Regions from separate parts of the Homo sapiens genome. Here regions 1 and 3 are each linked to region 2. Evidence: fine-mapped QTL for protein levels in blood plasma. Region 2 holds a variant in brackets. A gene starts in each other region. All regions are shown on their reverse strands.

Region 1 (4,102 bases), not on the chromosome of region 2:
GGCAAAACTGGTCCTTCCTTTCTTCCTTCCTTCCTTCAACAAATAGTTATAAGGTGAGGGGTGGAGCGAGGGGATAATAGTCCTGAGCAATGAACTGGTTTCCTCAGGTAGACCCCCTGGTACAATGGACAGGTTTCTGGAAGATTCCAGATGTAGGTATCCCTGGGATCTCACCTGGTGGGCTGGGGTACAGCAGTAGGAGCTTCCTTCGTGTTCTCAGGACAAAGCGCCTCTTGTCAGTGGGCCAGTAGTTCCCTGCTTGCATCTCCCTTCTCTCTGAACCTCTCTGTGCGTGCGTGTGTGTGTGTGTGTGTGTGTGTGTGTGTGTGTGTGTTTAAAGAGACAGCGTCTGCTCTGTTGCCCAGGCTGGAGTACAGTGAACAGTGGCTCAATCATAGCTCACTGCAGTTTCGACCTCTTGGGCTCAGGTAATCCTCAGGCCTTAGCTTCCCAGATTGCTTGGACTACAGGCATGCATGACTCTGCAGAACTAATTATTATTATTATTGTTATTATTTTTGAGACAGAGTCTTGCTCTGTTGCCTAGGTTGGAGTTCAGTGGTGCGATCTGGGTTCACTGCAACCTCTGCCGCCTGGGTTCAAGTGATTCTCCTACCTCGGCCTCCCGAGTCACTGGGATTACAGGTGAATGCTACCACGCCCAGCTAATTTTTGTATTTTTTAGTAGAGATGGGGTTTCACCATTTTGGCCAGGCCGGTCTCTAACTCCTGACCTGGAGTGATCTGCCTACCTTGGCCTCCCAAAGTGTTGGGATTACAGGCATGAGCCACCATGCCTGACTTTTTTTTTTTTTTTTTTTTTTTTTTTTTGTGGAGATGAAGCCTTGCCATGTTGCCCAGGCTGGTCTTGAACTCCTGGCCTCAAGTGATCTTCCTGCCTCAGCCTCCTAAAGTGCTGAGATTACAGGTGTGAGCCACCGTACCTGGCCTTGTAGTCTGGGGTTGGATACCCAATCTCCTCATAGCTGCCTTCCAACCTTTGGTCTGGAATCTCTCCTCTGGCTTTCTGACTTTGGCCACAAGTGCCCCTCAATCCTCTTGAACTTCTGGCCTTCTGGGCTCCCAAGCATCTGGCTACACCTGAAGCTCCAGGTTTAGGACATCGTGTCTATCAGCCGTGGCTCTCCAGGACCCCTCTGGTGGAGCCGCGTGCCCCTGCCCCCAGCCAACCCACCAGGTTTGGAGGATTGGATAAGGGCTGGCCAGACCCAGTGGATCTGTCTGCAGGTTTCCACATGACAGAGGAGCCACGAAGTTCTCTTTTTAGAGAACCCACGGTGGCTGTGTACAGAGAGGTACTTCTCAGAAGCTGATGATTCCTGTGACCCCTTGCATTGTCAACTGCCTCGAAATTTCACCCTTTCCACCTCCTTCCTCTTTTTTTTTTTTTTTTTGTTTTTGTTTGAGACAGAGTCTTGTTCTGTCACCCAGGCTGGAGTGCAAGTGGCACGATCTCGGCTCACTACAACCTCCGCCTACTAGGTTCAAGCGATTCTTCTGTCTCAGCCTCCTGAGTAGCTGGGACTACAGGTGTGCGCCACCACGCCTGGCTAATTTTTGTATTTCTAGTAGAGACGGGGTTTCACTATGTTGGCCAGGCTGATCTTGAACTCCTGATCTCGTGATCCGCCCGCCTTGGCCTCCCAAAGTGCCAGGATTACAGGCCTGAGCCACGGTGCCCAACCAACCACCTCCTTCCTCTTTTAGTCTCTTTCACCCATGGGAAGTGACTGAAGGAGGAAGTTCAAGGGCGAGAGTGAGTACCAGCAGAAGGCTGGGAGTCTGTAGTTTGTTCCTGCTGCCAGGCTCCACTGAGGGGAACGGGGACCTGTCTGAAGAGAAGATGCCCCTGCTGACACTCTACCTGCTCCTCTTCTGGCTCTCAGGTGAGCGGGCCTGGGTCTGTCTTCTTGGGGAAGCTTAGCAAGCAGGAGGAGGTGGCTGAGAGAGGGAAGAAGGGACCCGGCCAGAAGGTGTCCTTAATGGCATGAGCCTTGTGCGTTTCATCCACATACCCACCATTCACCTAGCATTTCCGTTGCCAAGGCAGGAATACAGGGCATGACCTTCATAATGAAGCCAGTGCAAGGCAGAATTCCTGACCCCCAGGGGCTGATCATGTGAAATGGACAGACTGTAGGCCCCGCCGGCCAGGGAAAAGCAGAGGAGGAACATGGGCTGCTCAGGAGAGCAGGCGACTGCCTGATCCTGGACTGGGTGATCTGTCACCTGCGTGGAGGTGTTCTGAGCAAGGGCAGGCGTCAGGGAAGAGGTGAGGCTGGAGGACTTTGAAAGGAGGGAAGAGGGAGTTTGCTGGGCAGAGAGGGAGTGGTGGTTCTAGGCATTTGGGGCAGAAGGAAATAGTAGAAGTTGCTGAGGGACGGAAAGGTCAAGAGGAGATAAGACTGGCAGGGACGTAGAGGAAAGGAGGGACTGAGATGTGGGCAGAGCCAGAGGGCAGGAGACACCTTAAGTTGGTGCATACAATTTTTATTAAAAATGAAGGGAGGCCAGGGAAAGAGGCTCATTCCTGTAATCCCAGCACTTTGGGAGGCTGATTGCTTGAGCTCAGGGATTCGAGACCAGCTTGGGTAACATGTGGAAACCCTGTCTCTACAAAAAGTACAAAAATTAGCCAGGTATGGTGGCATGTGCCTATGGTCCCAGCTACTTGGGAGGCTGGAGGCTGAGGCATGAGGATCACTTGAGCCCAGGAGTTGGAGGCTGCAGTGACCTGTAATCACACTACTGCCTTCCAGCATGGGTGACAGAGCGAGACTCTGTTTCAAAAAAAAAAAAAAAAGAAAAAAGAAAAAAGAAAAAAAAAGAAAGAAAACAAAAAAATAATTTCAAGAAGTGAGAAGTGATAAGTACTGTGAGGAAAACAGAACAAGATGATATGTTACAGTGGGACCCAGGTAGGGGGATGCTGTAAGTCAGGTGGGCTGAAACAACCCCCCTGAAGAGGGTCCCAGATGCCTGTCCGAGCCGAGACCTAGGAAAAGGATCAGACACAGGATCGGGACCAGCTTTCCAGGCACAGGGAACAGTAGATACGAGGGCTCTTGTGTAGGAATGAGCTTGGACTGGGCACGTCTGAGGAAGAGGGAGGTCAGCACGGCTTTGCCTCATGCTTCAGAAGATCCTGGTGGGACAGATTGGAGAAAAGGTCTTGGGGAAGAAAGTGACTTGTCCAGGACTGCTAGGCTGGTACAGGAAGAGCAGGGAGTGGCTCATGGACACTTGGCCCCGAGTTTCAGCATGTAAGTGGAGAAGGCAGACTTTGGGTGAGATGTTATGAAATGCATTGGCACAGTGAGACCAGGACAGGTATGGCTGCTTTTTTTCTGACACCTGGAAATGAGAGAATTTGGTAGTGAGCAGATGTGAGAGTCGTGTTGGGAGTGGGAGTGGTTTGGGACCTCTGTCTGAAGTGGGCAGAAAAGCCAGCAGGCACAGCTATGGGCGCCAACATGGAGCCCGGATACCACTGTGAACCTGCATGCATCAGCTCTTGCCAGCCTCTCCTGCAGAACTTCCACCCACAAGCAGCAAGTGTGCTTACCCTGTTTCCCTCTTCTAAATAATTTATCGTTTTAAAACACCCAAGAAAAAAAATACCCATCCGGAAGTTTGTTTTCTGTGAGAAAGGAAGGTTTTTTATTTTTTTTGAGTTGGGGTCTCAGTCTGTTGCCTAGGCTGGAGTGTGGTGGCATGATCATAGCTCACTGCAGCCTCAACTCCTGGGCTCAAGTGATCCTCCTGCCTTGGCCGTCTGAGTTGCTGGGATTAAAAGCATGAGCCACCGTGCCTGGCAAGAACAGATTTTTTGTTTTTTTTTTTGAGACAGAGTCTCGCTCTGTCACTCAGGCTGGAGTGCAGTGGCGCGATCTTGGCTCACTGCAACCTCTGCCTCCCAGATTCAAGTGATTCTTCTGCCTCAGCCTCCCAAGTAGCTGGGATTACAGGTGTGCCAGCATGCCTGGCTATTTTTTTTTTTTTTTCGTATTTTTAGTAGAGATGGGGTTTTACCATGTTGGTTAGGCTGGTCTCGAACTCCTGACCTCAAGTGATCCACCCG
Region 2 (4,099 bases):
TAGGACCCTGAACTCCAGTGGAGAGGGGTGGCACGGTCCTGCCTGCCCCACCCCACCCCACCCCACCCCATACCTTGGCTATCCCCTGAAAGTTGAAAGTGAGCACGTATTCCCCACGCCGCGTCTCGCTCTGCCGCACCAGGAACACTCCATGAGCATCAGGGCCCTGCAGCTGAACCAGCTGAGCTGCTTTCACTCTGGAGATGGGGCCGTGGAACCAGGGGTAGCAGGACAGGAAATGGTCCGTCTTCTGGCAGGCCGGGTCCAGCAGCCCCCCAGGAGAAGCACCTGTTAGATAAGATGGGTGATGGTGGTCGCAGGGGGCTACCTTATGTCCTGGGCTGAGTCTGGGTTCCAGCGTACCCAGAAGACAATGGCCTAGCTATTGGTTTACCCACCTTGGTTAAGGGAATCTGTGCTGCCCCTTGGGGAGCTGGACGTGCTAGGCTCTAGGGCTGAGGGAATATGCATCTCTGCTTCTGTGCTCTCCAGCCTGCTGGAGAAGAGGCTGAGGTTAAGGATCTGGGCAGGTCAGGGGTGGTAGCAGCAAAGGTGGTGCCAGGGACGAGGGCCCAGGACCTCACCCTCGGCCTGTGCACTCCGAGAGCTCAGCCATCCATGAATTCAGCTGCTGCTCGTCTCCCACCTCAAAGATGATGTCTGTCCGGTCCTTCACCTGGCAGGGAGGAAGGGAACAGGGTTGGGTCTGCTGTATGTGTATGTATTTGTATTGCCCCAGGGTGTGAAAAGCCTTGTCACTCACCTTCAGCACAAAGGTGTAAAGGTTGTCAGGCATCTCAAGCCGTGTGCACC[A/G]CCGGACCTCCTGGATGCTGGAGCAAGCTGCTTGTAGCTTGGGCCTTGAACTCTACGAGACCAAGTTGGGGTACTCAAGGCTTGTTCCTGATGCTCTTTCTTCCAGCCAGGCCTGAGTTTGTCTATAGTCTCCCCAGGAGTCCCCCTTTTAGAGAGAGTATCCATGGTGTTGCTGGGCAGGCTCTGAGCCTGTAGTGAGGTCCAGGGTGCCTTCCCCTAGCCTCCTGAACACCATTCACACTGAGATCCCAAGAAGCATGTGCTGGCAGAAGGCCAGCCCTCCCAGCCCATTGGACCTGGACTTGGAGACATTCCCACTCTGCCATGTGTCTGACATCCGTTTCTCTTCCCACTGGTGAGCAAACAGCTCCCTGCCCAGCCAGGTGATAGCAGCTGCTGACGGTCTCATCACACCAAGCCCAAAGGGGCAGAGCCTAGCATGGCTAGCCTAAGTTATAGCCACTGTAAAACCACAAAATCTTGGCCCTGGACCTTCCCAGGACACCCGGCACATAGGGCTGCAGGGTGGATAGGAGTTAGCCACTGTTCCTTTGCCAGCAGGAAACCTGCTCCCAGGTCTCAACTGACCCTGCAGATGCTTCCTGTGCTGGGGCACTCTGCAGCCAAGGAGCCAGCTGCTTCCGGTTGGGAATCTGCTCAGGAGGGGGTTTGCCCCTCCCCTTCCTCTTGTGATAAGACTGAAAAGATGGCCGAAAGAAGAAAAGGGGAGAAAGAGATGAGATAAGGAATGGACAGAAGTGGCCCCACTGGGCCCCCTCCATTCAGGTGTTCCTGGAAAATACTACAACCCCTAACAAACTGGGAGCAGGGGGATGGAAAGCAGAGGCAGCCCAAAGGATGTTCTAGCAACTGTGGCTTCAGGTGATCTGACCTCCACCTCAGCCCAAAAGGGCATACCTTGGACTGGAGCTGCTAGTGCTGTTGAATTGACCCCCAAAACCAGATGCTTAACCTTGCTTTACACACAGAGCTGCCAGGTACCTCTGTCGGAAGGATCATGACCCAGTGGCCTGGCCACCTCCTTTATCCCCCTTCCCCACCTGCAGGAGAGTCAATGAACAGTGAGGTAAGAGGGCAGCCTGGCAGGAGCAGGATGGCCACCTGGGCCCTTCCAGCAGGTCTCCTGGGAGCTCCCGGGCCTGCTCTGGTTGGCGGACACAACAGGCTGGGGGAGAGTAATGACTGCAGGAATGACCAACACTGGCCACAGCTCACTGCGGCCTCTCACTAGAAAGCTGCATGACTAGAAAATTCCAGCCTGAAGTGACCAGCACCAGCCAGGGCATTTTCACCTCCTACTCCCAGAGGTCCAGCAGCCAGGATGAGGCAGGCAGAGTGAGGCCTCACATGGCATCCACACGGGCACTGGACACAGCGCAGTGTGCAGGGAGTGGGGCCTCTGCGCTCTTGCCCATTTTTACAGCCAGCCAGCCCTGCAGAGCCTTCATTTCCTGTCTGCAAGATGGGTAAGGTGCGAGTGGCCACTTCCTTCTGCTACTTTTCCAGTTGGCCCTGCCTGGCCCCCACCCTTCCCCCTAGCTGCAGGCCTTAAGGATCACTGGGAGGATATAGGCCAGGCCTGGAGGGGAACGGGCCTAGTCTCCCTTTCAGTTCCGCTCCAGGCCTAGTCCCCAGTGTCAGTGCTGAGATTAACCAGCAGAGCTGCCGGTTTCACTCTGACTCTGGCCCCTGCAAGCCAGCTCCACCCCCAGCAGCTGAAGAACTGCTGAGCAGGCAGGCAGTGGTGAAAAGAGGATTCCCCTCCTCACCCACAGCCAGCCTGGCTGCCACCTGCCTGCTGGCTGAGCACAACCCAGGGGTTCTTCCCCAACTCCCCACAGCAGCCCTTGAGAGCCGCCCAGGCCTAGAGCCACAATCTCAACCCAAGCCTGCCAAGTATCAGAGCCGGGGTCCGCCACAGCTACCTGGTGGTATGGGTGTCCTATGCCAGAGGCTCCAGCCAGGTTGCAGCGTGTGGGCACATGGGCGCAGGACAACCCCTGCTTCAGTCGAAACCTCAGCCTGGACAGCTCAGGCTCTGGCCACTGCAGGGAAGGACCACCAGATGCCCATCAGATTAAGCTATATGGGGGGATGGGTGAGAGGGGAGACAAGCTCAAACCTGGGGGCTGTGTCAGCAGCTGTGGGGGCTTTAGGTTCCCTCCTCTCACATGCCCGCTATTCCACCTCCCTCAAAAGTCAAGCCAGGCCAGCAACAGCTGCTCCCTGGACCTGCTTAGGCTCTACTGTGGTTGGGTGATCAAAGTGGCCAGATCATTTCAGGTATTTGTGGTTTGAACAGTAGACTGTCACCCACCACATCCTGCAGCGTCTATTTCTGGGGAGCAAGTCTTCTCCATTCCCAGCATCTAAACAGATGGCTTCTGTTTGTTATGGCCACTGTGGCTCCAGTGGGAATAATCTATTTCTTTCTTTGCTCTGGCTGCTAGGAATCTCAAAGTCAAAGACGTAGGCCAGCTCTGACACTACCCCAACGGTAGGACTTGTATTTATTTCAACAGCTAACTTTATCCCAGATGTTATAGTTCTTTTATCCTCTAGGGTTTTTTGTTTTTGTTTTTGTTTTTTGAGACAGATTCTCACTCTGTTGCCCATGCTGGAGTGCAGTGGCGCAATCTCGGCTCACTGCAACCTCCACCTCCTGAGTTCAAGCGATTCTCCTGCCTCAGCTTCCGCAGTAGCTGGGATTACAGGCACCTGCCACCACACCCAGCTAATTTTTGTATTTTTAGTAGAGCTGGGGTTTCACCATGTTGGTTGGCCAGGTTGGTCTCGAACTTCTGACATCAGGTGATCCGCCTGCCTTGGCCTCCCAAAGTGCTGGGATTTTAGGCATGAGCCACCACGCCGGGCCCTACCCTCTAGGTTTTAAGATTCAGCCCTGACCCTGCCACTTCCTATACAACCCTGGACAAAGGGTTCGGCTCTCCATGCCTTAGTTGTCATCTGTAATTCAGCTCATTTTTTCACAAGGTGAGCTAACACAAGCGAAAGGCATGACTCGCACAGCTGTTAACAGGCCGGTGAGTAAAGCCTGCTTGGCTCCCACTACACTACTGACAGCATGACAGTCCCCTCTGAGTAGCCTAGCCACTGGGTACACCCCCAGCTTCTCTCAGCCTTACAGAACTATTGCCCCATTTTGTCACATGCTCCCTTACCATCCTGCAATAAATTCCACGTAATATAACCAACATACTACCCTAACTAATTACAAGACAGGGACAACAAAGGACTGTCACTT
Region 3 (4,086 bases), not on the chromosome of region 2:
GGAAAACAATTGTGCAGCTACAAAGTGCTAAACAAACAGGGTTGAGACTACTGAAGCCAAAAACAAGACAGAAGGCACTCAGGAAGCATAGATGCACTTAAAATGAGCTCCTGTCCCCAAATCTCAATGACTTGCTCCCCATGGTACTGCAAGATCTTGGAGGTGGGATTACAAAATTGGTTTCTGCAATCAAAACAGCAGCCAACTGGGAACATACACAGGGGGTGACACCTGCTTACAGCAGTTCCTGCAATGAGGGCCCAGGGACCTCCATTAGCTATAGGCTGAAGATGAGGTGACAGTATCATGAAGTGGCCAAGAGCTATGGTCAAACCAAGTTGCGTAATAGAATTCCGAAAAATGAAGGCAGGAGCCCCTGCCAACTCTAGGAGCAGGATAATTTCCTCTTAAAGTTTCTGAGGGATCGGGAGATATTTATCTGGGAAAGATGCAACAGAGGAAAGACACAAAATACTTGGTGGGCTAAGCTTAAAAGAAGGGGGAGACTTATTCTGAGTTACTTTATAGGACAGAAATGGAAACTAGAGGGATCATGGAGGCAGATTTCGGCTCAACATGAAGAACTCTCTCACCACTGAGCTCTAGCACTGTGGAACAGGCTGCAGTGCCAAGCTGCAGCAGTCACATTGCTGGGAGGGCTGTATGGGACCCCATGACACCTCCTATGGACGCTGTGTGAGAATGCGGGGAGCAGCCTCCAGTGGTAGGAGGGAAGTTGGCTAATGTTCAGCTCAGAAGAAAATTAAGCCTAATTTCCCAAACTTTAAATACATATTTCACATTCAGCCAGGTCCCCACATGCTCAATGTCAGGATTCCTTTCCTCCCGGAGCCCTGACAGCCAATAATAGTAATAGCCACCAATTTATTATGACCACACCCTGCTCTTGAGAGAGGAAATAGCAGCTCTACACTTATGGTAAGATAAATGTTGCTACACACCCAGCCCCAGTGTCTGTGTTTTAGGCTGTTTTTCCAGGGTCCCTGAGCATCAAGTGGGACCAAATTTGCTGGTGCTGGATTCTCCATTACACTGTGCACCAGTCAGCCGGTCACTGATTCCCTTCCTCTCCTCATTTGCTGTCTGTCATCCTCGTCCTGGGTTCCAAGCTGGAACACTCTCAGACTGTATCTAGACAAGTCCAAGGGCTGTTCCTTTTACAAGGTAGTGCCGGTAGTGCCATTTGCCCCTGGGAGTCTTCTGCCTGGAGTATATCCAGGCATTAGGCTATCCTGTCCCCGCCTCAGTGTGAGCATTAGACCTTTTCATTTGTCCAAATGGCCATTCATAGAACACACGAGTAGCATGCTATGCTGGAGAAGGAACATTGAGTGGAAGGGGCATTTTCCTCACAGGGTCAAATTCTCACAAACTCTGTCCAGGAAGAGGTTATATTTAGGAACAGTTTTGCTTTTCTAGTTCAAGGAATACAAATAGCAAGCAAGCTATTGGGACCAAGAATTAAACAAAAAGTAGGTCCACTTGGAAACTGTAAAGTGAAACAAAATATATGCCAAATTATTTCTTTTAGGTATAAGGGGGGTGACACTGGCTGAGACTGAGCTGGGTCTGGGGGAGCCCAGTGACCCTCTGCGTGCAATCCTCTACCCTTAGACCAGCTCTCTTAGTTACAAGTAGCCTGCATGAGAAGAAATGGAGAGAAGAGAGAGAGAGACATGGATCAGACAATGGAGTTGATTCTTCAAACCAGCCCCATGGATCTGAAACAGCTCCCAACAGAGAGAAGATGTAGGCGGAAGAGAGACAGTCAATTTGAAAAGGGCTTTGGTTACTCAGAGCACAGGCCTTTCAACCAGGTGAGAGGTCTGGCCATTGTTACCTGGTTCTAAGAAAATGCTGAGGCTCCATAAAAATATGTCACCCTGTAAAATTCCACCTCCCATTGCTGAGCAAAATGCCTGGGACTGTTTCCCCTCATTTCCCTGACTCCTTCCCTGTTGCCCCCAGCAGCCTCCTTCCCTCCTGCAACCTCCATTTCCTTTTGAGACAGCTCTGATTAGTATTTTAACCTGATGTCACAAGGTAGAAATGTCATTGGGAAGTTAGGGGACTTTGTAATGTGATTTTCTGCCTCCCTAATTTATCTCTGACATATCAAAGGGCTGCGCTGCCAAGGACCCAGGACTACGGGGTAGGAAACACTGAGGAGTTTCTCCTACCCCAGTGCCCATCTCTCCCAAGCATGCCCAGGTGCACACACCTGTCTTGAGCTCCAGCCACAAACCCACTGGAATTGGGAAAGGTAAGATGAGGAACTTGGTGTCTCAGGGATGACTTACGGTCCTTAGTGCTCCAAGAGGGGATGCCCATGCTCGTTGACTTACCAAAGAGCAGCACAGCCGTCCAGAGCAGCATGGGGCCTGTTCTGGCACAGCGGAGGGAACACAGGTCAGAAACAGGTCAGGGCGAAGCCGGCAGAGAGCAACCAGGCCTCAGGACCGAAGGTGGGTGGGTGGCCTGAGCTGGGTGGTGCTATAGCTTGATAGCCAAAATAGGAAGTGGAAAAGAAACTTACAAAGCTCTAATTGATATTTCCTCTTTGGTTGAAGAAGTATTACATGAATAAATTTTCCTGAACACTAAGTATGAAGGAGTCGGTAAATCACTAATAAATCCCTGACATTTTCTGCAGCTTCAACAAGCCTATGCCAGGGAACTAGGATGGAACATGGTTATGGGACACCTCCATTAGAAAGGTCCAGAGACTGCCCGAATTTGCTTGGCTTCAGCGTCATTCAGCCTGGGAGACAGCGCAGCACTGTAAAACTAAGATCATCTACCCCTTGACCACCGAGTGACCTCCCAGCTTCCAAGGAGCTCCTGTCTCCAGAGGTAAATGTGTGTGGATGCTGCAATGCGATGGAGAAGTGGAGCCCTGAGGATGCTTCACAGGATCCTCAGTTCAGGAGGGAATCAGACATCGATGAGTCTGGAGTAGAACACAGATGGAGCTTCGGCATCTGAGGCTTTTAAGACTGTCAGTATGATTTTGAGAACTATTCCTTAAAAGACACCATTAAGAGAAGGAACAGGCAAGCTGTGGTGTGATGAGATAGTTTAAATACATGTAGCTGACAAAGGGCCCACAGAAGAAATATAAGAATTTCTGCAAGTCAGTAAGAAAAGGACAGACAACATACTAGAAAAATGGGCAAAAATAATTGGATAGGTACTTCACAGAAGCAGATATCCACGTGTCAAATCAACATAGCAAAAGGAGCTAGACATCATAAATCACCGTGGAAATGCAAATTTAAACCATAATAAGATACCACTACACCTTCCATAAGAATAAGGGAGTGATACCAGCTGAGACTGAGCTGGGTCTGGGGGAGCCCGTGACCCTCCCCATGCAATCCTCTACTGAGTATTGGTGAGGATGTGAAGAAACTAGAACTCTTGTACACCACTAGTGGGAATATAAATTGGTACAGTCACTAGAAAATGGCTTGGCAGAATCTACCAAAACTAAACACAGGGATCCCTGATGGCTCAGCATTTTCACTCCTGGGTAAATGTCAAACAGAAATGTATACATATAAGCCTGAAAAAACATATACAAGAGTGCTCATAGCAGCATCATTTGTAATAGATAAAAACTGGAAATTATTCAATGTTCCCTCAACAGAAAAAGAGGTCACACATTCTCATCTCCTCTGTGGACAGAACATGGGAGTTCACGGTGAAACACAGAGTCAGGCAAAATACTAGGAAGCATTTTCATTTTCTTGTTTCTTTTCTTTCTTTTTTCTTTTTTTTATTGAGAAGGAGTCTTGCTCTGTTGCCCAGGCTGGAGTGTAATCTTGGCTCACTGCAACCTCCGCCTCCCAGGTTCAAGTGATTTTCCTGCCTCAGCCTCCCATGTAGCTGGGATTACAGGCATGCACCACCATGCCTGGCTAAGCATTTTCTGACAGTAAAGTTCTTCCTGGAAATCTTTAAGTGAGAAGTTCTACATAGTCTGATGGAATTTGATGTGCCTATTGCTGAGGCCAGGAATGGACAGAGAGAATTTTCTAAGTTTTCTTGCCCTAGATTGTCTGA

Which allele goes with the higher level. Positions count from the first base shown, and alleles are read on the strand shown. Strength reflects both the effect of a copy and how common the allele is.
In carriers of allele G in region 2, the plasma level of the protein whose gene starts at base 1,808 in region 1 tends to be lower than with A alone (moderate association).
As copies of G replace A in region 2, the plasma level of the protein whose gene starts at base 2,462 in region 3 goes down (moderate association).

What was found. A credible set is the group of variants that fine-mapping cannot tell apart. PIP is the chance, under the fine-mapping model, that this variant and not a neighbour inherited with it causes the effect. Protein levels are from antibody-based Olink assays in UK Biobank. Linkage for the fine-mapping came from a reference panel and not from the study's own genotypes, which makes the PIPs less certain.
Region 1: CD300LF starts here. The variant in region 2 is the best candidate, but not a certain one, in a credible set for the plasma level of the CD300LF protein (UK Biobank, PIP 0.58).
Region 3: FCRL6 starts here. The variant in region 2 is the best candidate, but not a certain one, in a credible set for the plasma level of the FCRL6 protein (UK Biobank, PIP 0.53).

The regions. Positions count from the first base shown.
Region 1 is chr17:74,710,629-74,714,730 of GRCh38, reverse strand. CD300LF (CD300 molecule like family member f) reads left to right here and starts at 1,808. Exons shown (of 7, transcript NM_139018.5): 1 at 1,808-1,907. The coding sequence starts at 1,865. It also overlaps a transcript of RAB37 not described here.
Region 2 is chr12:111,443,519-111,447,617 of GRCh38, reverse strand. It overlaps SH2B3 (SH2B adaptor protein 3), which reads right to left. Exons shown (of 8, transcript NM_005475.3): 3 at 764-865; 4 at 585-676; 5 at 399-493; 6 at 74-288. It overlaps LOC124903019 (a long non-coding RNA gene), which reads left to right and starts at 2,873. Exons shown (of 2, transcript XR_007063462.1): 1 at 2,873-4,099. RefSeq lists enhancers at 2,214-2,483, 3,234-3,353. The variant A/G (reference allele first, on the strand shown) is at 814.
Region 3 is chr1:159,800,736-159,804,821 of GRCh38, reverse strand. It overlaps FCRL6 (Fc receptor like 6), which reads right to left and starts at 2,462. Exons shown (of 10, transcript NM_001004310.3): 1 at 2,367-2,462. The coding sequence starts at 2,397. It overlaps LOC105371464 (a long non-coding RNA gene), which reads left to right. Exons shown (of 3, transcript XR_922195.2): 1 at 1-2,284; 2 at 2,675-2,874.